7 linked regions of the Homo sapiens genome follow. The protein of the gene in region 1 purifies or fractionates together with the protein of each later gene. This does not show direct contact. Each region holds a gene or a part of one and is shown in the gene's direction. Other genes may lie near its edges.

The links.
Region 2: the proteins of ISCA1 (region 1) and PKM purify together in Homo sapiens (affinity purification with mass spectrometry; one large-scale study listed by BioGRID and IntAct). This does not show direct contact.
Region 3: the proteins of ISCA1 (region 1) and KBTBD11 purify together in Homo sapiens (affinity purification with mass spectrometry; one large-scale study listed by BioGRID and IntAct). This does not show direct contact.
Region 4: the proteins of ISCA1 (region 1) and MGME1 purify together in Homo sapiens (affinity purification with mass spectrometry; one large-scale study listed by BioGRID and IntAct). This does not show direct contact.
Region 5: the proteins of ISCA1 (region 1) and PDSS2 purify together in Homo sapiens (affinity purification with mass spectrometry; one large-scale study listed by BioGRID and IntAct). This does not show direct contact.
Region 6: the proteins of ISCA1 (region 1) and BDH1 purify together in Homo sapiens (affinity purification with mass spectrometry; one large-scale study listed by BioGRID and IntAct). This does not show direct contact.
Region 7: the proteins of ISCA1 (region 1) and DUS3L purify together in Homo sapiens (affinity purification with mass spectrometry; one large-scale study listed by BioGRID and IntAct). This does not show direct contact.

Annotation. Positions count from the first base shown.
Region 1 is NC_000009.12:86,265,539-86,269,038, reverse strand, and holds part of ISCA1 (iron-sulfur cluster assembly 1 homolog, mitochondrial precursor), read left to right. Parts: intron 1-2,847; coding exon 2,848-2,996; 3' UTR 2,997-3,500. UniProt on the Homo sapiens protein: Involved in the maturation of mitochondrial 4Fe-4S proteins functioning late in the iron-sulfur cluster assembly pathway. Probably involved in the binding of an intermediate of Fe/S cluster assembly.
Region 2 is NC_000015.10:72,214,191-72,217,690, reverse strand, and holds part of PKM (pyruvate kinase PKM), read left to right. Parts: intron 1-190; coding exon 191-282; intron 283-3,500. UniProt on the Homo sapiens protein: Catalyzes the final rate-limiting step of glycolysis by mediating the transfer of a phosphoryl group from phosphoenolpyruvate (PEP) to ADP, generating ATP.
Region 3 is NC_000008.11:2,004,677-2,007,436, forward strand, and holds the end of KBTBD11 (kelch repeat and BTB domain-containing protein 11), read left to right. Parts: 3' UTR 1-2,260; downstream 2,261-2,760.
Region 4 is NC_000020.11:17,972,018-17,975,517, forward strand, and holds part of MGME1 (mitochondrial genome maintenance exonuclease 1 isoform 2 precursor), read left to right. Parts: intron 1-689; coding exon of another isoform or gene 690-734; intron 735-3,500. UniProt on the Homo sapiens protein: Metal-dependent single-stranded DNA (ssDNA) exonuclease involved in mitochondrial genome maintenance. Has preference for 5'-3' exonuclease activity but is also capable of endonuclease activity on linear substrates.
Region 5 is NC_000006.12:107,453,065-107,456,564, reverse strand, and holds part of PDSS2 (all trans-polyprenyl-diphosphate synthase PDSS2), read left to right. Parts: intron 1-3,500. UniProt on the Homo sapiens protein: Heterotetrameric enzyme that catalyzes the condensation of farnesyl diphosphate (FPP), which acts as a primer, and isopentenyl diphosphate (IPP) to produce prenyl diphosphates of varying chain lengths and participates in the determination of the side chain of ubiquinone.
Region 6 is NC_000003.12:197,510,969-197,514,468, reverse strand, and holds part of BDH1 (D-beta-hydroxybutyrate dehydrogenase, mitochondrial precursor), read left to right. Parts: intron 1-52; coding exon 53-205; intron 206-2,104; coding exon 2,105-2,574; 3' UTR 2,575-3,500.
Region 7 is NC_000019.10:5,788,364-5,792,398, reverse strand, and holds the start of DUS3L (tRNA-dihydrouridine(47) synthase [NAD(P)(+)]-like), read left to right. Parts: upstream 1-1,235; 5' UTR 1,236-1,257; coding exon 1,258-1,355; intron 1,356-2,063; coding exon 2,064-2,352; intron 2,353-2,679; coding exon 2,680-3,192; intron 3,193-4,000; coding exon 4,001-4,035. UniProt on the Homo sapiens protein: Catalyzes the synthesis of dihydrouridine, a modified base, in various RNAs, such as tRNAs, mRNAs and some long non-coding RNAs (lncRNAs). Mainly modifies the uridine in position 47 (U47) in the D-loop of most cytoplasmic tRNAs.

The DNA of each region.
Region 1 (3,500 bases):
GTGGATCATGAGGTCAGGAGTTCACGACCAGCCTGGCCAACATGGTGAAACCCCATCTCTACTAAAAATACAAAAAATTAACTGGGTGTGGTGGCACACGCCTGTAGTCCCAGCTACTGGGAGGCTGAGGCAGGAGAATCGCTTGAACCCCAGGAGGCGGAGGTTGCAGTGAGCCGAGACCATGCCATTGCACTCCAACCTGGGTGAAAAAGTGAGACTCTGTCTCAAAAAAGAAAAAAAGACATCATAGTGCACTGTGTTCTTACCTGTGAATAGCCACTGCCCTTAAGCCTGGGCAACATAGCGAGACCTCCATCTCTTAAAAAAAAGAAAAAAAAAGGAAGAAGAAGAAGAAAATAAAACATGGTACACCTGTTTGTGGCAGTTACCATGCATGGAACTTGCAGGACTGGAAGTTGTCCGCGTGAGTCAGTGAGTGAGTAGGGAGTGATAAGTGAATGTGAAAGCCTAGGACGTTCCTCCGTAGTACTATAGACCTTATAAACCTTGTACACTTAGTCTTCAATAATAAATTAACCTTAGTTTACTGAAACTTTTTTACTTTGTAAGCTTTGGGGTTTTTTTTTTTTTTTTTGACTCTTTTGTGATAACATTAGCTTTGAAACACATTGTACAAATAACAAAAATTTTTTACGTTCTTATTCTATAAGCTTTTCTCTATTTTTAATTTTTTCTTTATAAACATTTTAATTAAAAACTAAGACAAAAACACACGTATTAACTTAGGCCTCCACAGGGTCAGGTTCATCAATATCCCTGTCTTCCACCACCTCCCCTCATCCCATTGGAAGGCCGTCAGGGGCAGTAACACTCATGGAGTTGTCATCTTCTGTGATAATGATGCCTTCTTCTGGATACCTCCTGAAGAACCTGCCTCAGGCTGTTTCACGGTTAACTTTTTTTTTTATAAGTAGAAGTACACTCTAAAATTTTAAACAATAAAAAGTATAGTAAATACATAAAGCAGTAACATAACCATTTATTATCATTATCAAGTATTATGTAGTGTACATAATTGAACATGCTTAGACTTTTATATGACTGGCAGTATAGGTTTGTTTACACCAGCATCACCACAAACACCTGAGTAATGGGTTGTCTTGTGATATTATGGTGGCTACAGCATTGCTAGGCAATGGGAATTTTCAGCTCCATTATAATCCTTTTTTTTTTTTTTTTTTTAATTTGAGATGGTCTCGCTCTCTCACCCAGGCTGGAGTGCAGTGGTGTGATCTCGGCTTGCTGCAACCTCCACCTCCCTGGTTCAAGCGATCCTCCCACCTCAGCCTCCCAAGTAGCTGGGATTATAGGCGCCCACCACCATGCCTGGTTCATTTTTGTATTTTTAGTGGAGCTGTATTATCAACTCATGTTTTTGAGGAATCCTGTATTTCCAATTTTTATTCAAAGCTATTTATTATAATTTAATTTATAATTAAAATTAATTATATTTGCTGCTGCCCCCTTCTTCCACCCTATAATCTGTTAAAACCTATCTAAAATAAATAATTTATCTTGTCATTGGAAGTATGCACTTAGCTTGCAGTTCTTACCTACATGGGAGAATGAGGCCTAGATTCCTAAGTGTGCTTTCTTATTAAACTAAAGTTATAACTATCAATAAAGACCTTTTAAAAATGTATTATTTTAAAAATTATAACACATTATAAACCTTAAGATTTTCATCTTAAAGAAGAGGTGACTTAATTATATATTGTTTATATTTAGCTAATGGCTCAATTTCTTGTAAGGAAGAAAGTTTTTTTGTTGTTTCGTTGTTTTGTTTGTTTGTTGAGACAGAGTCTTGCTCTCTTACCCAGGCTGGAGTGCAGTGGCACAATCATGGTTCACTGTAGCCTCTGTCTCCCGGGCTCAAGCAGTCCTCCCACCTCAGCCTCCCGAGTAGCTGGGACTACAGGTGCCCACCACTGTGCCCGGCTAATTTTTGTATTTTTAGTGGAGCCAGGGTTTTGCCCTGTTTCCCAGACTAGAAAGCTTTCTTAAATTGATTGTATTTGTTGGCTGGGCACTGTGGCTCACACCTGTAATCCCAGCACTTTGGGAGGCCGAGGTGGGAGGATCACTTGAGCCCAGGAATGCAAGACCAGCTTGGGCCACGTGGTGAAACCCTGACTCTAAAAAAATTAGTTGGTCCTGGTGGTATGTGCCTGTAATCCTGTGGGAGGATCGCTTGAGCCTGGGAGGTGGAGCTTGTGGTGAGCCATGATCATACCACTGCACTCCAGCCGGGGTGACAGAGTGAGACTCTGTCCAAAAAAAAAAAGATTGTATTTACAAAGATGCTGACCTCTACCTGTGTAATTACTAGGGAATAGTACCTGTTTTCCGTCCTGTAACCAGAAAAGACTATTGTTGTACTGATTGATGTTATTAAAATAGCCCCATTGTATCACAGTCCTTTGTACATCTTTAAGCTTGAATCCGTGTATCTAGTGTATTGCAGAATTTTCATAAATTTTTTTTTATTTCATAAAACTCATCGAGAATATACATTTTCTTCATGTTGCAAACTGGAAAAATGAGTGAAGTATAGTGAAAGGTAAATTCTAATTTTGCATAAAATTGTCATGGAATTTACTTGTATAAAATTCTCCCCTAATGTGATTGTGACATAAATTCATGTGTGGGAAAGAAGGGGCAGACAGGAAACTGAATGCTTAATTCCTTAAGGAAATAATTTAAAATGTTCAAGGCTTCTTGTTTGACTTTCATTGATAGTCACTATTTCAAGTTCACTTGTGCTTTGAATCAGCAAGTTCCATAAGGCTGCAGGCTTTCCATGACACATGTTTTCTTTTCTCCAAGGAGTCAGAGTATTCATCGAAAAGAAAGCACAGCTAACACTTTTAGGAACAGAAATGGACTATGTTGAAGACAAATTATCCAGTGAGTTTGTGTTCAATAACCCAAACATCAAAGGGACTTGTGGCTGTGGAGAAAGCTTTAATATTTGAAATCTCAGGACTCTTCTGGCCGTAGGTTCCAGGAAAGCTCGTGGAAGCTTTGGGGCTCACTGCAGAAATCATGTGACTGTCACGTGCTGGAAAATAAAGTGATACATCTTGAAAATGAATCCAGTGTGTTGGATTCCAGAAGAAATGATATTTATATTCTCTATAGGGGACAGAAAATGAGAAGCCATCACTCTTTTTGGATCATTTAGGTCTCTTGTATCCTTTGTTTTAGAACCAGTTTCATTAAAGTTGCCTTCCTGGGCACCTGTTTATCCATTTCCTGAACTGTGTGCACTCCTTAGATCGCTATTGATGGCTTGATCATCCCTCAGCATTTCTCCCAACCAGATCGGTGACTCCTAAAATCTGAGACAGGACATCGTGACTGCTGGTAGTAATATGGTGGTGCATTGTTTTTTCCACCCAAACTTAACATAGCCTTTTTATACATTTTTATGAAAAATTTCATTGTCAGCTGCCTCACTGCATACTCTTTAATAGTAC
Region 2 (3,500 bases), on another chromosome or scaffold:
CGAAGTGTCCCAGTAGATCAAGAAAGTAAGCTGGCACGGTAGTAGCCTTCCATGCACTTTTTAAAGACTTTTGAGCTATTTGGGAGAGGAAAAGTTTTCAGGGAAAAAAATTCTTTAAACTTAAGCAAACTTAAATGTTTTTCCTTCTTTGAATAATTAATACTTGTGGCTTTAAAACTTTTCCTAATAGGCCCAGCTTCCCGATCAGTGGAGACGTTGAAGGAGATGATTAAGTCTGGAATGAATGTGGCTCGTCTGAACTTCTCTCATGGAACTCATGAGGTGAGCTGTGGCTGGACCCTATGGCCATTGTGATGGCCTGTAGGAAACAGGGAGGGGGTGCAGTGTTCGTTTAGCCACAGTGGACTAGACAAGGATGAGTCTGAGTTTCACAGTCAGTGTGAAGTTTGTCTTTACTAGCCCATCCCTACTCTCCTTCCCTCTTGTCCTGACAAAGCAACTGGCTGAGTCTCTTTTAGCAAAAAGGACCCCCTTTGTTGCTGGCTGTGGTTCTCCCACACACCTCTCCTACCCTTAGCTTTTACAAAGGAAGATATGGAAAGGTTCTACTGGAAAACCCTCTAAGCCTTAGGTGTCCTGGCCACAGCGCTTGACTCTCCTGTCCCAGGGTTTCTGCTTCACCTTGTGTTGCCATGGTAAACCATCTAGCAGATTGATTCTAGCTTAGAACCAAAATAACTGGGCAGGTCCATGAGAACGGTTTCCACTATTCTAAGTTTTGAGGGACTGAGCCTAATGCATAAGCACTATCTGGGGTGTAATACCCCACTTCCTCAGCACTGTATTCTCAGCCTGTGCCTTCCCAGGGGTTCTGGTACATTAAAATAACACCAGTTAGCACTCTTCCCCAGGAGCCTAGTAGGACTGTATTTGTGCTGGGCTCTTTATTAGCTGGCTTTACCTATGGACAGAGGCCTTGCCCAGGAGCCAGGTAGCAGCTGTTGGGATGGCTCCATTCCTGCCTCCATTGCCAGATTTAGAATTAACCCATTCTGAGGAGCTTGGGGTTCCCTGAGGTACCATGACTTATTTATTTTTTTATTTTATAAAACAAAATTTTGCTCTGTCATCCAGGCTGGACTGCAGTGGTATGATTATGGCTAACTGGATCCTTGACCTCCCAGGTTCAAGTGATCCTCTTGCCTCAGCCTCCCGAGTAGCTGGGAATACAGGCATGCACCACCACACCTGGCTAATTTAAAAATTTTTTTGGGGGAAATGAGGTCTCACTATATTGCCTTGGCTGGTCTCAAACTCCTGGGCTCAAGTGATTCTCTCAAATGTTGGGATTACAGGAATGAGCTACCATGCTCAGCCTGGGATTGTGCCTTTTTAAAACCTTCAGACTTAACCATAGGTTTCCCATAGATCATGGGATTTCGTAATGGCATTGATAAGAGGAATTACAGAAGAGGCAAACTTTGCACCTGTCTTGGCTTCTGTATTTCCTGTTGAGAGTAAAGAAAATGCTATCCTGTAAGGCCAATTGCCTTACAGAGGTTGCCCTCTGGCATTTGGAAGTTGGTATTAAGTTTGGACTAAAAATAAAGCCTCAGGAAATGCAATCCAAGAGTGAATTCCTCCTTTTGGGAAACACAAGACTCTTCATCATAGATTCCCTAACCTGTGTTCATAAACAGCCTATGGCCTGGCTAGTGGCTGGCCCTTAAATGTCATGGGGACCTGACCAAGTCCAGCAGACATACCATGTAGGTTAAGACATGTCCCTGTACCTTTTGGAAAATTCTGTAGTTTTCCAAAAGCAAGGGGTCCTTAGCAGGAGTCACCGAGAATTACTTGTTAGAGAATTAAGTGTTAGCTTAGCTTAGAGAGAGCTGAAGACAATGCTGGAGGTCTGTTCGCTGTTGATCCCTGCTGCTGTAGTCTGCCATGGGCTCCTGCATTCAGGGGAAGGAGCAGAAATAGATTTTTAAGAAGTTGACCTTTAAGTAGGCTTTATGGTTCCTTCATCCAGTAAAATAACACCACATAGCTCTAACATGGCAAGGGCGAGTGATACCTGCCACACCTGCTGGATGAGAGCTGGCTCCGATTTTGGTATTTTAAACTTTAAGAGGCTTTTGGAGATTATCTCTACTTTCACTCCTATTCCCAGATTATAATTAAGATTTATTTTTTATTTTTTATCTATTTATTTTTTAAAGATGTCCCTCTTGTGTGTTCATTTTGAAGTTTTAGACCAAGATGAGGTTGTGTGTGGGCTCAGCTTGGAAACTGATCTGAAATTATTCTAATTTATATAATGTAATGTAAACAGTTTCAGCCTTACCATACGTCAGGGCTATCGTTTCATGTGCACCTTTGACTAGGGGCTGGGGCGTACTTTTCCAGTTTCTGACTATTTTAAATGCTCTTCTGAGCAGAACGTTGAGATTACTGTCTTCCCTCTCACTCTGACAGAGGGACATCAAATGTCTGCATCTGATCTTTTAACAGCTTTTTTTTTTTGAGACAGAATCTTGCTCTGTTGCCCAGGCTGGAGTGCACTGGCACAATCTCTGCTCACCACAACCTCTGCCTCCCAGGTTCAAGCAATTCTCATACCTCAGCCTCCTGAGTAGCTGGGATTACAGACCTGTGCCACCACGCCCAGCTAATTTTTTTATATTTTTAGTAGAGACGGGGTTTCGCCATGTTGGCCAGGCTGGTCTTGAACTTGTGACCTCAGGTGATCCGACTGCCTCGGCCTCCTAAAGGCGTGAGCCACCACGCCCAGCCCTCTTTTAACAGCTTTGGCAACTAGTCTTCAGCCCTCACTTTTGGCAGTTCACATGGGCAAGATGCATTCTTGCTGAACATGTGGTTCCATATGCCATGTTTTCCAGATTTATTTATTTATTTATTTATTTATTTAGAGAGGGAGTCTCGCTCTGTCATCCAGGCTGGAGTGCAGTGGCACGATCTTGGCTCACTGCAACCTCTGCCTCCTGGGTTCAAGAGATTCTTCTGCCTCAGCCTCCTAAGTATCTGAGATTACAGGCACCTGCCACCACACCCGACTAATTTTTGTATTTTAGTAGAGACTTGGTTTCACCTTGTTGGCCAGGCTGATCTCGAATTCCTGACCTCAAGTGATCCATCCGCCTTGGCCTCCCAAATTGCTGGGATTACAGGCGTGAGCCACCACACCTGGCCTAGAAATAATGACTTTTAAACAACCTAAATGTAGAGCCTTCCACAGGACAGCATTGATGGATGCTTTACCACATAACATCCCAATAAAGCCACAGCTGAAGTGGAAGACTCAGTACACCTCCCAGAGATGCTCTAAGAGATTATGATATATGACATAGATTTGAATAATATACCTAATAATTGGTATGTTTATAATATATGGTTTTACATCCCCAAGACCAAAAATGCATGTTTGCATGAAACACTCATGGTTACAAAAATATATTAGGCCACCAAAAAAACCCCCACGTTTCATAAAGTAGAAATTATACAGACACATTCTC
Region 3 (2,760 bases), on another chromosome or scaffold:
TCTGCTTGCCCATGGTTACTCATGAACTGAGGGGATAGCTTGGCAACTTGGTTAATCATCTTGGGAAAGAAAAACAGACTTCATATCGCCTGACTTGATTGGCCTTTTATAGGAGTATACTGGAGAAATGGTTGTAGAAACAGTATTTACAGCAAAAGGAAACAAATAATGTTCATTTTAAGCAATGTACCATTCACACTGTCCTGCCTTTTCCTCTAGAATTTTATTAATGGTAGAAATTTTTATATGAAATGGGACCAGGACCAGGCTAATATTTTCAGTCCTTAAATATCAAACTCATATGCTGTTATCACTGTGATTTTACTTGTGAAATCATTCCTGTAATGTTTATTGTTTGAAAATGAAATATTGAAATTAGGCTTCCAGAGTAACACTGTCCCCGGAAAAGGATATGAGAAGTGGTGGATGTTGGATGGGGGTGGTTGCACAGTCCTGTGCGGTTCCCATGGCTTTCCAGCGTTTCATTTAGTGAAGGAATGCTCACACTAGATGTAGCACAGCTTCCTGTGGGGCCCGGCAGCAAAGCCCCAGGTGCTCCCTGTCACCTCACAACAAAATGCACTAAGAAACGTAAAGAATAAGAGGAATTAATACCCACCATTAAAGGATGTCCGGCCAACCTATTGTGGAAATTTATAGAATAGTATACACCACAGTTCTGAATAGTGATATCACATAAAAATACATACTAGAGGACCTGCCACGCCATGAGCAGTGTTTTTGCTTTTTGGGGGCCAGTCCCTGGGGTGTGGAGCCGCTAGGGTTTGCACCCATGAAACAGAGAAAAGCCACACCCTCCAAGGTGTGGCTTTCATTTTGGGACTGCTGCAGGGAGGGCAGAGGCATTGCTGAGACTGCCTGGCAACGGCTGATGCCCCAGGTAGGACCTTTTCCAATTCAAAGTGGTGTTCTAAGTCTGCGTCCAACACTGTGTAGGAAAAAGGTTGGTGCAAAAATATTCCTGGTCATCCACCCATTAAAATAGTTAGATGAGGCTATTGCCTTGATGACAGCTGTCCACACTCCTCATGAAATTAACCCGTATGCCGGGGCATTTCCAAATGTCTGACTCGTGAAATTAACCCATACGCAGGGGCCTTTCCAAATGTCTGAAAAGGCAGTGGTGTCTTTTGGGGAAAATGTTATGCATGGAAGCCTGACCTTTTGCTTAGTTGACAGCAATCCCTTCTGTATTGCCAATCAAGGTTCATTTGAGATGCAGAGGAATGAGCTTGAGCCTTCCTCCTTTTCCTTCCGGTTTTATTCTTCCTCTTGGGAACATCCCTCCACTCCGCACTGCTTCCTGCAGCTTTGTAGAGCTGGATTTGGAACTTCGGGATTTGGTTTCTGAGTCTGTGGAGGCACCGACTTCTGCTGTAAGAAAATGAATGTTGTGGAAATTCTTTGGCTACTTAACTAAAACTCGTGACTGTATAAGTTTGGCTACAAATAAGTAAGAAATTAATCATCTGCTCTGTTTCTGCTAATTTCTGGTGTCACTTCAGTAATTCTGGTAGCAGCCGTTGAATCTGTCAGTCTCTTAGGTAACTTCCTGTAAACGATTTGGAAATAGGATGTTTTCAACGTTCTTTTGTCTTTTGCTGAAGTCAGGATAGATTCAAGACATAATCTCTTGTAAGATCTAAATAGAGCAAATGTAAACAAAAGTGCATTTTTGTATTCTTGTTAATTTTAGATGCTTTCCTAGCTTACAAAAAGTTCTGTTTTTGGGTTAAAAATCAATCAACTTTCTGATATTTCCCCTTCTGCAATGTTATTGTTCATAAGAAAACACGAGCTGAAAATGGAAATCTGCAGTTGTTTCAGTTGTCTTGAATTTCTTTCAGTGGCCACATCATTTCCACGTTTTCCACATCCGGGAGGAAGCCTGGACTGTGCAGCCTTCGGGCACCCGGCACAGACACTGTGCTGGCAGGAGCTTCAGACACGCCAAGTGGATGGATTTGGATTGAACGCATATGAAACAGGAGACGGGTTCTCATGTGAGATCAAAGCTCCTCCAAAGCCTGTTCAAGCTCTAAGCGATTCTCAAATGTTACCATTTATTAAAGGTAAACTACACCTGTTGAAGGCCAAGTTCAGGGCAGCTGTTGTGATCTGTGTAGTTAATGTATTTATTAATGCTTGACTTTTAAAATCCTGGGCATAAATAGTGCAGAGCCTCGTATGTTTGTCAGTTCATGCCGAGATGAAATAAATCACGCAGAAAGTGCCAGTCCTCCTGATGTGCCCCGAGTGCTTTTCTCTTTCTCCACAGCGAGCGTCAGATGCGGCTTTTTCTCCTGTGAATCAGGGAGCGTAGCTCTGCCTGCGGGACCCAGGGTTGACACGTCCTGCCCGTTAAGTGAGGAACTGCCCTCACCGGCTCCTGAAGCTCCCCTGGCACAGAGGTTCTAAGTTGGGGTGTCTGTTCCCACTCCCAGGTGCCCTGGATTCCTCGGTCTGCTCACGGGTCCCAGCGGGGGATCACGGCACACCACCTAGGACCTCGGGAACACCAGGATGGGCTGCACAGGAGCAGGTGGAAGCCGAGGCCAGCGCCTAGACTTTGGTTCCTAGGGAAGGCAGGTTGGGGGAGCTGCTTCGCTGCACTGGTTTGTGTCCTTCCAGTGGGCTTTGTGCTATCACGGTGGTCTCCAGTTGCCTGGTACCGGGCCCAGGGGTGATACAGGGCAGGGCTTGTGTGTGAGAGTAGCTGAGGAGGGCTTGGGGGTGTGG
Region 4 (3,500 bases), on another chromosome or scaffold:
TGACCCACTGTGCCCAGGCAGAATCACTCTTTTTAGAAAATAAGTATTAGTAAGCAGTGGGTTCTGAAATAAATAAAGGGACAATTAGTGTCATGGTGAATAAAAGAAAAAGGGCTCACTAAATTGATTAACGGGTCTGGAGGATACTGGATCCCAAACCCAAGAAGGTGGCACCCAAGAAGAATTACATTTTAAAAATTAAGAAGATTTTTTTAATGAAAAATATTGGATCAGTAATTTCTACCCAGTCTTCTCAAAGGTGAGAGCATAGAAATGTGTCTGGCATTCTTCCAAATACTTGAGCAGTTTCCCAAGCATCAGTTCATCTTTTGAAGACTGGTGGGAATGAGAAAGTCTGACTTATTCTGATTTATATTTTGTGTATAAATACACACAAAGGGATGGGGTTTAGGTTTTAATTTTTTTTTTTTTTTTTTTGCTACGCTGATTTAATCCTGAAGTATTAGCCATCCTGCCAGTTCCATCATGAGAATACTGGAGATGCATGAAGGTTTTTTTTAGTGCACTTCATATACGAGGACTTGAAAACATTTCACTTTCATTACTTTGAGTGAATAAGCAGACTTGATGCTACATGCAGTGAATATTCTTGGATCATTTTTTATTTTTATAAATTGAATCATGTTGAATGTTCTGAGCCTTAGTGTCTAAAGGATCCTGTAATCTAGGTTTTCATGTTTGTGATCATGTGTATATGAAGAACCTAGCCAGGGGTAAGTTTGCAGCGAGAAATGTATGGTCTATTGGCATGGCATTTGCTAAGTTTTTTTCTTCCTGTTTTTAACATGTTTGTCTTCTGCTTCATTAACCTAGTGTGTAGATGAATGCTATACACTTCTTTTTCCTAGGCTTTAATTCCATCAGTCATAAATTTCTTGTAGGTCTTTCACGTGTTAATAATTCCAATTGAGTCAAGTAAATTTGGAGTAGAATAACTTAGTTCCTAAGTTGAATTTCATTTAACTCTCCAAATAATTTTTCAGAAGGGATTCCATTTTTTGCTAATGATAGAATTGACATTTCCAGCTGGGCATAGTGGCTCATGCCTGTAATCCTAGCACTTTGGGAGGCCGAAGCAGGCGGATCACTTGAGGTCAGGAGTTCAAAACCAGCCTGGCCAAAATGGCGAAACCCCATCTCTACTAAAAATACAAAAAAATTAGCCGGGCGCAGCGATCACTTGTAATCCCAGCTACTACGGAGGCTGAGGCAGGAGAATCGCTTGAACCTGGGAGGTGGAGATTGCAGTGAGCCGAGATCATACCACTGCACTCCAGCCTGGAAAAAAAAAGAATTGACATTTCCATCTTTGTAAAAAATAGTTGAAGGCCGAGTGCAGTGGCTCATGCCTGTAATCCCAGCACTCTGGGAGACCAAGGTGGGACGATTGCTTGAGGCCAGGTGTTTAAGACCAGCCTAGGCAACGTAGAGAGATTGCATCTCTACAAAAAAAAAATTTTTTTGAATTAGCCAGGCGTGGTGGCACATGCCTGTAGAGGAAGCTGAGACAGGAGGATTGCTTAAGGCCAGGTGTTCAAGGTTACAGTGAGCAATGATCGAGCCAGTACACTCCATCCTGGGTGACAAGTAAGACCCTGTCTCAAAAAAAAAAAAACTTGACAAATGTAAAGTTGTTTTCCGCCTTTTCTGTGGGTCTCTCTGCAAGCATGTTCCAAGCACGTGTATTTCCTGCTCTGTTTCTCTGAGTATCTAATTGGTGATTTCCAAGATTGCTTCCTTTGCTCTACTGTGTGGTAGATTGGAAACAGATTCTGGTGCCAGGCTGCCTGTCCAGCTTTTTGCTTTGGGGCAAATTAACAGCACTGCCTGGTGGGATAGGGCCTCATTCATTAAAATGGGGGTAACTTACAATCCCTATTTTGCTGGGTTGTTGGGTTTGAAAATTAAATAATGTTTTGAAAGCTCCAAGGCCATTGCTTAGCATAACAGTCCCCCCTCTTTCTCTCCTCTTACTAAGAAACAAGTGAATATATTTCTTGTGTTTGTTGAGTCTCTTTGTGTGTTTTTTTTTTTTTTTTTTTTTTTGAGATTGTCTTGCTCTGTCACCCAGGCTGGAGTGCAGTGGCATGATCTTGGCTCACTGCAACCTCTGCCTCCTGGGTTCAAGCAATTCTCCTGCCTCAGCCTCCAGAGTAGCTGGAATTACAGGCATGCGCCACCACACCTGGCTAATTTTTGTATTTTGAGTAGAGACTGGGTTTTACCATGTTGGCCAGGCTGGTCTTGAACTCCTGACCTCAGGTAATCCGCCTGCCTTGGCTGCCCAAAGTGCTGGGATTATAGGCATAAGCCACCATGCCCGGCCATGTTCCCTTTTTTAAAATGTGTATGAGGAGGGGGCTTACTATGCAAGCGCTTGGAGGCCAACGAGCACTGAAAATGAGGAGAGAGTTCAAAAATCAAGTTAGATCCTGGGATACGCCAACAAATCCAGACACTACAGTTCTTTCGGAGAAACCTGGGGACGAAAAGTAAGGCTTTGACCTCAGAAAATGAACATACAGGAAAAATAATGTGTCCTAATGTGTCCTAATGAAATTTCTCTAGTATTCACATGTTATAAAATGTTAGGAAGAAAGAAGATGTGTCCTCCTACAAGCCATAAATCAGAATTCTAATAATCTAAAGCTAATTAGAAAAATATTACATGTTAAATATTAAATATTAGAATAGAAAAATGTATGAGGGAAAAAAATTGAGACACAGCTGAATTTTTCAGGCTGTTCCAGCACTAAAAAAAAAATACAGGAGAAGAATGTCACATATTTTCCTCTTCCTCCCCCTCCAGATTCCATAATATCAAATTCATAACTTTTCATTTGCGCATGCCTTATTTTCCATTCCTTGTTTGTCACTAATCCTGTTAGTAAAAGGATTCCCCCACCTATGTTCATAATTAAGTTTTGGTCTAAAAAGAACTACAAACAGAAGCACAGTTCCCTAGATTTCTAATTTTTTTTTATTTTATCACAGCCAGTTAACTTATTACATTGGATACTTAAACACATAGTACCATAAACTGGATGTGGTCTTGTAGCCGCCAGATCTTCAGTTTTGACTTTGGCCCAATTCTCCTAGAAGTACTTAATTTTAATTCATTTTATTACCTAACGTCCTATTAATAATCCCGTTGGTTTCAAAGTATATTCTTAGGTTTCACAAGAGGCTGAAATTTGGTCTTAGGGGTTGTCACTTAAAAATAACTAATGTAATTTTTGGCCGGGCACGGTGGCTCATGCCTGTAGTCTCAGCACTTTGGGAGGCCAAGGCTGGCAGATCACGAGGTCAGGAGTTCGAGACCAGCCTCACCAATATGGTGAAACCCCATCTCTACTAAAAGTAGAAAAATTAGCCAGGCACGGTGGCGGGCGCCTGTAATCCCAGCTACTCAGGAGGCTGAGGCAGGAGAATCACTTGACCCCAGGAGGCAGAGGTTGCAGTGAGCCAATATCGCCCAC
Region 5 (3,500 bases), on another chromosome or scaffold:
TGAAATAAGTAAAATTACATTGTTATTTTTCTAAATAATAATGTTTCATTTTACTGGTTTCTTTGCAATGTACAAATATGATAGTTTATTGCATATGACCTTATGTGACTTCCTTTTTAAAATTCATGGTTTCTGAGATTCATCCATGTTGTGTGTTTAACTGTAGTTCATTAGGTTTTTACTGTGTGTGAAATTCTGTTGTGTGAATATACCATAGTCATCTTTTGTTTGTTTATTTATTTTCAGACAGAGTTTCACTCTTGTTGCCCAGGCTGGAGTGCAGTGGCACAGTCTCGGCTCACTGCAGCTTCCACCTCCCGGGTTCAAGTAATTCTCCTGCCTCAGCCCCCCAAGTACCTGGGATTATAGGCGCCCGCCACCATGCCTGGCTAATTTTTGTATTTTTAGTAGGGACAGGGTTTCACCATATTGGCCAGGCTAGTCTTGAACTCCTGACCTCGTGATCTGCCCACCTCAGCCTCCCAAAGTGCCGGGATTATAGGCGTGAGCCACCACGCCGGGCCTCACAGTCATCTTGTAATTAACATTTGGGTTGTTGCATTTGTTAATATTATGAAAAATGCTGTTATAAATATGTTTGCATATCTTTTGGTGTTCATGTCACGAGGATATAAAAACAAGAGCGTAATTGTTGGATGTGCACATGTTTATCTTTAGAATGCTTTCTAAAGTGAATGTACCAGTTTATACTCTCATAAACAACTTCTGAGTTCAGGTTACTCCTAGTTCTCATAACACTAGAACTAAGAGATTTCTTAAGTTTTTTTTTTTTTTTTTTTTTTTTTTTTTGAGACAGAGTCTCGCTCTATCGCCAGGCTGGAGTGCCCAGTGGCCTGATCTCGGCTCACTGCAACCTCTGACACCCTGGTTCAAGCAATTCTCCTGCCTCAGCCTCCCCAGTAACTGGGATTGCAGGCATGTGCCACCACGCCCAGCTAATTTTTGTATTTTTAGTAGAGAAGGGGTTTCACCATGTTGGCCACGATGGTCTCTAGCTCCTGCCCTCATGATCTGCCCACCTCCGCCTCCCAACGTATTGGAATTACAGGCATGAGCCACTGCGCCTGGCCCAGATTTCTTAGTTTTTGGTAATCCAGAAGGAGGTTTCTTTGTGTTTGATGGAAATGATAGTGTCAATGATAGGGGCTGTAGTATTGCATTATGAGTATTGTAGTCCATCATAAAGCACAGAAGTGAAAAGGGTGAAGCTAAAAAGAGCCTTATTAATGTGTATATTCTGAGAACCGTAGTTCGTCTACTTAGTTGCAATAGCATCAGATGAGGGTTTGGAGAAGATCTCTTCAGAGGCCACCAGAGGCATCCTAGATGAAAGTTTGTGAGACTAATGGTTCTGAAACTTTCCTAATTGTTGCCTAACCTGCCTTGTAGTACTATAGTACAGTGACAGAACTGGAAAGGCACAGAATAAGTAAGTTTTTGCAAAGTTGTCCTAGCATGTATGTGTTGCTGTATTTTGTAAGAAAAGAAAGAGCTAATCTGCATATAATTTTATTCTATTTACTACAATAATGTGTTGCAAATTATTTAAACAGCCTAAACTCATAGACAGCCAATGAAGAAACTTTTGGGGTGTGGATATGTATCTGTATATATTTGTATATACACTGTACACAGTTATTTCAGCAAAGGAGCAGGCATTTGATCCAGAGGTTAAGCAGGTAATGATTATTGTAAATTATAACTAAAATCAAGGATTAAGCAGCTGTATTTTTTTTGTTTTTTTATTTTTATTTTTTTGAGGCAGAGTCTTGCTCTGTTGCCCAGGCTGGAGCCATTTACTTTTCGAATAAAGCTACATGGTATGTTAGGGGTGAATCATGTCTAATAGCCCTAAAGTTTACGTGAATGGTGACTTTGTTAGCAAACAGCAGGAAAAAAAAAAAGGAAACCACCATAATTTGCTATTCACTGATCTCTTTACCTAAGACATCTTGTCAAGAAAAGGGAAAAACAGCCTAGATGTGACATATATTCTTTAACACTAAATGAGAAATGAGGTTAAAAATCTTGAGGTTTGGTGAGATAATGATTCTGTTACTAGGAATAGAGGAGCATTTAGCTCATTGTTACTCTTGTTCATCTAGATTTTCTAGGATCTCTCTGTTGTAAACTATAATTAGATAAATAATTAATTAAATGTTTATTGAAACTTATGAAGTGATATAAAGAAGTCTAGACCAGGTGTGGTGGTTCACACCTGCAATCCCAGAACTTTGGGAGGCCAAGGTAGGCAGATTGCTTGAGCTCAGGAGTTTGAGACCAACCTGGGCAACATGGTGAAACCCCATCTCTACAAAAAATACCAAAAATTATCCGGGTTGCTGGTGCATGCCTGCAGTCTTAGCTACATGGGAGGCTGAGCTGAGAGGATACCTTAAGCCCAGGAGGTCGAGGCTGCAGTAAGCTGTGGTCGTGCCACTGTGCTCCATCCTGGGCAATGGAGTGATACCTTGTCTCAAAAAAAAAAAAAAAAAAGAAGTCTGAAACATGGACCCTGTCCCTTGATGAGTTGACACAAAAGATATTTACAAATATCTAACAGAAGGAAACAAATGACTTGTGGTTAATGAGCTACCACATAGAGAGATGGCTTGGAATAGTAGAGAACCTTTCATGGAGAAATTGGGACTCCATTGAAGGATGGATGGATAAAAATTACATGAGTAATGTTTTAGGGTAGTAGTTATATAATATTTGTTTTTTTCCTTCATGATTCTTTCTTTTTTCCCCTTTCTTCTCCAGGCTACCATACCTCTACTAGGTATGGGGAAGACCTTAAAAGCAAGGATAAGCAGCATGAATAGAGCTAGAATAGTAAAAACTAGAACATTTTAGGATAACTAAAATGTTGGAAAAAGAAAGCATGGGTTGAGGAATCATTCCACCTACTGTTAAATCTTACTATATAGCTGCATTAATCAAAACACTGCGGTATTGGCAGAGGAACAGACAGATCAATGGAACAGAATAGAGAACCCAGAAATAGATTAACACAAATATGCCCAACTGATTTTTAACAAAAGTGCAAAAACAATTCAATGGAGGGAGGATAGTTTTTTTTTTTCTTTCTCTAAAAATAGGGCTGGAACAATTGAACATCATAGGCAAAAAAATGAACCTTGACCTAAACCTCACACAGTATTTTTTAAAAATCAATGTAAAATGGATTATTTGTGAAATCAATGTCCACTTAAAATGGATTTAAACATGAAATGTTAAACTATAAAACTTTCAGAAGAAAACATAGGATAATATCACGGCCGGGTGCAGTGGCTCATGCCTGAATTCCCAGCACTTTGGGAGGCTAAGGTGGGTGGATCACCTTAGGTCAGGAGTTTGAGATGAGAATCGCTCAAACCCAGGAGGTGGAGGTTGCAGTGAGCCGAGACTGCACCACTGCACTCCAGCTTGGGCGACAGAGCAAGACTCAGTCTCAAAAAAAAAAGAAAACATAGGAT
Region 6 (3,500 bases), on another chromosome or scaffold:
TGTCTGGGCCAAGCCCATGTGGTAAATGCACATCTATCCCTCTCCTGTCCAGGCATGTGGGGCCTCGTTAACAATGCCGGCATCTCAACGTTCGGGGAGGTGGAGTTCACCAGCCTGGAGACCTACAAGCAGGTGGCAGAAGTGAACCTTTGGGGCACAGTGCGGATGACGAAATCCTTTCTCCCCCTCATCCGAAGGGCCAAAGGTGAGTGGGAAAGGGAGCTCCCTCCTGCCCCTGAACCTGCCCCACGTGTTCATCTTTGCTCAGAATGGAAATACCTGTCCCAGCAGCTCCAATGTCCACAACTCAGCAGAGGTGAGCTCGTGAATCCCAGGGACTATGCTGGGCCTGGGGTGATGGTGGGCAGAGGGGCTGTGGCCGGGTAGGGGAGGAGGAAGCAGAGCAGGTAAGAGGTCAGTGGTCCATGCAGCAAAAGCTTAAAGAGTTGAGCAGCCATCCACTCTGCACACCTAATCTATAGAGAGAATCACCCTTTGCACAAAGCTGTGTGTACACATCTTTGTATCAGTCAGGTGTGGTTAGTAAAATCTGGCATATTCATTCTATGGGTTATTTATATCGTAGTTTAAAAAATGAGATCATTGTGGTATTAGGGAACAATAGTAAAAATCAAGATTAGAAATTTGGAAAACCAACAAAACACCCAAACCATGTGGGTGGCCAAATGTGAGCAAACCACTTTAGAAGTCATTGACTTGGATTTTTTTCTCTGGCATAGCAAACAATTGTGGCAAAAAGGGTAAGATCCATACATCTATGGTGAAGTCCTAGCAACAACAAGCATGAACACAGACTGCAGCTGTAGGATTTTAGATGGAAACCCCAACCCTTCAGTGACTTCAAATTTAGAGCTTTCTGAAAGGTGCCTCCCCCAGGATGGGCTGAGTTCCCTCCCGGGGACACACCTGGATGGGCTGAGTGCCCTCCCGGGGACACACCTGGATGGGCTGAGTGCCCTCCCGGGGGCACACCTGGATGGGCTGAGTGCCCTCCCGGGGGCACACCTGGATGGGCTGAGGGCCCTCCCGGGGGCACACCTGGATGGGCTGAGTGCCCTCCCGGGGGCACACCTGGATGGGCTGAGTGCCCTCCCGGGGACACACCTGGATGGGCTGAGTGCCCTCCCCGGGACACACCTGGATGGGCTGAGTTCCCTCCCAGGAAAACTGGTCCCAGATCCGCCTCGGCTTCCCGGGCTGGGCCAAATGCAATCCACTTCCAACCCCTCTGTTCCCAGGGCCAGGAGGAGCTGTGGGAGGCCCCTGATGCCCCCAGGCTGGGCCTGTGGCCTTTGGAGGGGGATCACCACACTCTCCCAGTGCCCAGGACTCTCTCCTCATATCCTAGCCCTGAAGTCAGGTTCAGAAATCCTGCCCCTGCCCCTGCCTGCTGCTCTGTTTGCCAGGCGGTCCTGGTCTCCACCCAGGCTCCACCCTACCAGGGTGGAATGGAGTTGGGGAGTTGGGCCTAACAGCACGGGTCCTGTCCTCTTTCAGGGCTGTCCCGGGGCTCCCTCCCAGCTGCAGCCCCAGGTACTTCCTCGTCTGCACTCCAACCCCCATCGCCAGGGCTGCTGTCAGTGGCTAGACACTTGGCCCTAGTGTGCTACTTATCTGCACGTCGTACTACTGGAGCTGGACTTTAAGCTCCATAAGGGGAAGGGGAAGCTTTCAGGCTGTATTTCTCCCTCACCAGCACCAGACCTTGCCTATAGTGAAAGCTCAGATCCACACAGACAGCTGTCTCGCCTCCCACTTCTCCCCTCGTGTTTTCACCCCAAATTATCACCGCATCGGGCTTGATCTGGTTTTTGAGTCAGTTGCGTGTTGCCCATTACACTGTGCCCTGCTGCTTCTCACTCACTTGTCCTCCCCTGTCCTGCCTGGCACAGCCAGGTTCCCAGGGAAGACCAGGGGTGCCGATGCTGATGCGTGGGCCTGAGCTGGCCTTGCCTATTGACTGAGAAGGCTCCTGGGTGGCTCAGAAGTGGTTCCAGCCAAGCCTCTAGAGACATGCCAGACTTCTGCCCGCTGTGTCATAGGGCAGTAACGGCTTAGCAGGTACCTCTGTCTCCCTCTGTAGGCCGCGTCGTCAATATCAGCAGCATGCTGGGCCGCATGGCCAACCCGGCCCGCTCCCCGTACTGCATCACCAAGTTCGGGGTAGAGGCTTTCTCGGACTGCCTGCGCTATGAGATGTACCCCCTGGGCGTGAAGGTCAGCGTGGTGGAGCCCGGCAACTTCATCGCTGCCACCAGCCTTTACAGCCCTGAGAGCATTCAGGCCATCGCCAAGAAGATGTGGGAGGAGCTGCCTGAGGTCGTGCGCAAGGACTACGGCAAGAAGTACTTTGATGAAAAGATCGCCAAGATGGAGACCTACTGCAGCAGTGGCTCCACAGACACGTCCCCTGTCATCGATGCTGTCACACACGCCCTGACCGCCACCACCCCCTACACCCGCTACCACCCCATGGACTACTACTGGTGGCTGCGAATGCAGATCATGACCCACTTGCCTGGAGCCATCTCCGACATGATCTACATCCGCTGAAGAGTCTCGCTGTGGCCTCTGTCAGGGATCCCTGGTGGAAGGGGAGGGGAGGGAGGAACCCATATAGTCAACTCTTGATTATCCACGTGTGGATTATCCACCATGCCAGGAAGACCCATAACTGGTTTTAACACTAACTAGAGGGAATGACTTCTTTGCATAGTGAGTGACTTGGGCCTTCACAAACAGGGTGTGGAGTGGCAGGCAGAGGCCTCTAAATCTCAGGGCAAACATGGTGAATCTATCTCTCCGGAGATAATTTCATACAGAGATTTTAAGAAAACATCTTTATATTAAAAACAGATCTCATTTGATCCTTAAGCCAGTCTCATGAATGAAAAGGACAGGTTTTTTTCTTTTGTAAATGAAGCATTTGCAGCTTAAAGAGGATGCATGAAATAACCCTTTTATCGCTTATAAATAGTGCCAGTTATGTGTTCCTGCCACGGCTGTGGAAATACTTCACATTTGCATTCCAGGACTGTTTTGGATCCATTTGCCCGAGAATCTTCTGACTAACTCTGTGTCCTCATCTGGGCAGCACACACCAAGTGCCCACTGGTACCTCTGCATGTCCATGGTGCTGTGTGACTGGCCAGCCAGCAGCCAGTGACTCAGAGCTGGCTGTATGGAGGGGGTGGGAATGTTTCTGGAGATTTTTGTTTTTCCAGACACAGTCTTGCTCAGTCCCCTAGGCTGGAGTGCAATGGCACCATCTCCGCTCACTGCAACCTCCGCCTCCCTGGTTCAAGCGGTTCTCCTGCCTCAGCCTTCCAAGTAGCTGGGGTTATAGGCACCCACCACCATGCCGGGCTAATTTTTGTATTTTTAGTAGAGATGGGGTTTCACCATGTTGGCTAGGCTGGTCCCGAACTCCCGACTTCAAGTGATCCGCCTGCCTTGGCCTCCCAAAGTGCTGGGATTAC
Region 7 (4,035 bases), on another chromosome or scaffold:
GCATCTAGCACAGCATCTGGCATACAGATGCTCAACTAATTATTTGTTGAAACTAATGTCCTGCATAAAAGTAGTGTAATTTACTTTTTTTTTTTTTTTTTGAGATGGAGTCTTGCTCTGTCGCCCAGGCTGGAGTGAAACGGCCGATCTCGGCTCACCGTAACCTCCGCCTCCCAGGTTCAAGCGATTCTCCTGCGTCAGCCTCCTGAGTAGCTGGGATTACAGGCGCCCATCACCATGCCTGGCTAATTTTTGTATTTTTAGTAGAGACGGGGTTTCGCCATGTTGGCCAGGCTGGTCTCGAACTCCTGACGTGCCCACCTCGGCCTCCCAAAGTGCTGGGATTACAGGCGTGAGCCACCACACCCGGCCTTATTTATTTATTTATTTAGAGACAGTCTCGCTCTGTCCCTCAGGCTGGAGTGCAATGGCGTGATCTCAGCTCACTGCAACCTCCACCTCCCGGGTTCAAGCGATTCTCCTGCCTCAGCCTCCCAAGTAGCTGGGATTACAGGTATGTGCCACAACGCCCAGCTAATTTTTTATATTTTTAGTGGAGACGGGGTTTCACCATGTTGGCCAGGCTGGTCTCAAACTGCTGACCTCAAGTGATCCGCCCGCTTCGGCTTCCCAAAGTGCTGGGATTACAGGCGTGAGCCACCGCTCCCGACCCCTAATTTACATTTTTAAAAACCCTAGCAGGGGCCGGGAACCATGGCTCACGCCTGTAATCCCAATGCTTGGGAGGCCAAAGTGGGAGAATCGCTTGAGCCCAAGAGTTCAAGATCAGCCTGGGCAACCTGGCAAGACCTCGTCTCTACAAAAAATTTAAAAATTATCCAGGCCTATTGGTGCATGTCTGTAGACGCAGCTACTTGGGAGGCTGAGGTGGGAGGATAGCTTGAGCCCAGGACGAGGCTGCGGTGAGTCGTGATCGTACCGCTGCACTCCAGCCTGGGCGACAGAACGAAACCGTTTCAACAGAACAACAAAGACAAAAACCTCCAAAACACCCTAACAGTTAAATTTCCTCAGTCCAGAAGCTGATTGCAGTCCAGTTCGCAATTGGCCAGGCTCTAGTTTATATAGGACCTGAGGCTCCACCCATGTGCAGGCACCGCCCCCGTGGCGTCACGAGCGAGCAATGGCGTCATTGGAACGACATGAGCATGCGCACTTCCCCAGCACAATCAGGGAAGACACGCGTGACCCGGAAGGTCTTCCCGCCACACTCCAGAGCGGATGTGAGGGGCGCCGATGGCGGAGGGAACGGCGGAGGCTCCTCTAGAGAATGGTGGTGGTGGCGACTCGGGAGCCGGAGCTTTGGAACGAGGAGTGGCGCCCATTAAGCGTCAGTGAGTCGCCGGGGCAGGAGGGAAGCTGAAGGGCCTTTTCCGGCACCCATAGCGCGGTCCGAGCTGTGCATGCCGGGAGATTAGGCAGCGGCTGAGGGCGAGAAGCCACCGGCTCTTCATTCCGGGCCGTTCTTCCGCCTGCAGGGTGGTCAGCGGAGGTACCTGAGATCGTGCACGTTGGGGCCTGTCACATGCGCGAAGGACACCACGTGCATGCTAGGGCAGGTGGGATTTGAGGCCAGGCCCGCGCTGCATACTGGGGATTGTAGTCCCTGCATATGGACGTACGGCGCATGTGCTCTGCCAGCGGCCGTTACTGGCGGGTCTTGGGGTTGAAGCGAGTGCCGCGGGGCGTGCTGGGGCCTGCGGTGTTTGAAGGGCCGAAAGGCGTGCTGGGAAATGTGGTGGCTTAGACTCCGCTTCAAGGCATGCTGGGAATTGTAGTTTTTCGCAGCCTAACGTGCGCAGGGACGTTCTTGACTGAACCTGATAATAGTTTCGCGCAACACTTTGGACAGTGAGGACCCAGGGACAAAATAGGTCTTTTTTGAGGCCGTGAGGGGCTCCCAGGCTGGGAGCTGGCTGGTTCTTAAGTAGTGAGCTCCCCATCAGCAGAAGGATTTAAGGACGTGCAAGTGTTTCTAGCCTCCTTTCCCCAGTGTTTATTGACTATGTTCGGAGGGTTTTCCTTTCCCTTTCTGTCGGCAGATACCTCACCACCAAGGAGCAGTTTCACCAATTCCTGGAAGCCAAAGGGCAGGAGAAGACTTGCCGGGAAACCGAGGTAGGAGACCCTGCTGGCAATGAGCTGGCTGAGCCTGAGGCTAAGCGGATCCGACTGGAGGATGGACAGACGGCGGACGGGCAGACGGAGGAGGCAGCAGAGCCCGGGGAGCAGCTACAGACTCAGAAGAGGGCCCGGGGACAAAACAAGGGCCGGCCCCATGTGAAGCCCACGAACTACGACAAGAACAGGCTGTGTCCCTCCCTAATCCAGGCAAGTGCGGCCACGTGAGCATTCCTGCCGGGGCAGGCAGGAGCAGGGTGTGTTTCCTGGCAGCGGGTAATTGTTAGAAAGCTCCTGGGCCTTCAGCAACGAGCAGTGAGCTTGCTCTGATGCCATTCCGTCTTCATTCTCCTCGGGATACATTGTAGGGCTTGTCATTGTTCTCATTGTATAAATGGAGATGCAGAGGCACGGTGAGGTGCCTGACTTGCTCAGGGACACAAGAGCCAGGAGGGGTGATCTAGAGTTTGAACCCTGGCTGCTGGGCTGCCCCGGGGTCTCCCTGTCCTCCCTCACTGCTTCCCTGTTTCCTCGCAGGAGTCGGCTGCTAAGTGTTTCTTCGGTGATCGCTGCCGCTTTCTGCACGACGTGGGGCGCTACCTGGAGACCAAGCCGGCCGACCTGGGCCCCCGCTGCGTGCTCTTCGAGACCTTCGGCCGGTGCCCCTACGGCGTGACCTGCCGCTTCGCTGGGGCCCACCTGAGGCCCGAGGGACAGAACCTGGTGCAGGAGGAGTTGGCGGCCCGCGGGACCCAGCCCCCGTCCATCCGCAACGGCCTGGACAAAGCCCTGCAGCAGCAGCTGCGGAAGCGCGAGGTCCGCTTCGAGCGAGCTGAGCAGGCCCTGCGCCGGTTCAGCCAGGGCCCCACACCCGCTGCCGCTGTCCCCGAGGGCACGGCAGCCGAGGGCGCTCCCAGGCAGGAAAACTGTGGTGCCCAGCAGGTCCCCGCAGGGCCGGGCACTAGCACCCCTCCCAGCAGCCCCGTGCGGACCTGCGGGCCCCTGACGGATGAGGACGTGGTCAGGCTGCGGCCCTGTGAGAAGAAGCGGGTACGTGTTGAGGACAACGTCAGTAGCAGATCTGTCCATCTGGTGTGCGTCTATTAAATACCAGCTGTGTCCACGTTCCTGTTCTAGCTGCCTGGGAGTCAGAGGCTGTGTGCCTTGAGGGAGCTCCTGGCTGAGTCTCCCTCTCTGTGCTCTGTCCTGGGCCCAGCCCTCAGGAGGTGGGGACAGAAAGAGCTGGACAGGGCCGGGGGCGGTGGCTCACGCCTGTAATCCCAGCACTTTGGGAGGCTGAGGCAGGCAGATCATTTGAAGTCGGGAGTTCAAAACCAGCCTAGCCATCATGGTGAAACCCTATCTCTACTAAAAATACAAAAATTAGCCGGGCCTGGTGGCGGGCACCTGTAATTCCAGCCACTCAGGAGGCTGAGGCAGGAGAATCACTTGAACCCAGGAGGCGGATGTTGCAGTGAGCCAAGATTGTGCCACCGCACTCCAGCCTGGGCAACAGAGCAAGACTCTATCTCAAAAAAAAAAAAAAAAAAAGAGCTGGACACACTCTAAGTCTCAGAGGGTCAGGGTCGGGCAGCGGGGGACAAATGTGGGAGGCTTCCTGGAAGAGGGGGCATTGGGACTGGGTTTGGATGGTTAAGTAGAAGCTCTCCAGTGGAGGAGACGATGAGGAAAGGAACATTCCTGATGAAGGGATTGATTGGCACATGCAGAGGCCCAGCAAAGGAGCCAGACCATTTGGGCCAAGTGTGTCCTAGACTGTGGGTAGAAGGGAGGCTCCAGGGCCTCAGCAGCTGGGGTGGAGGCCAAGCTCCACTTGTGTGTATTTTTTTCCCTCCAGCTGGACATCCGTGGCAAACTTTACCTGGCCCCCCT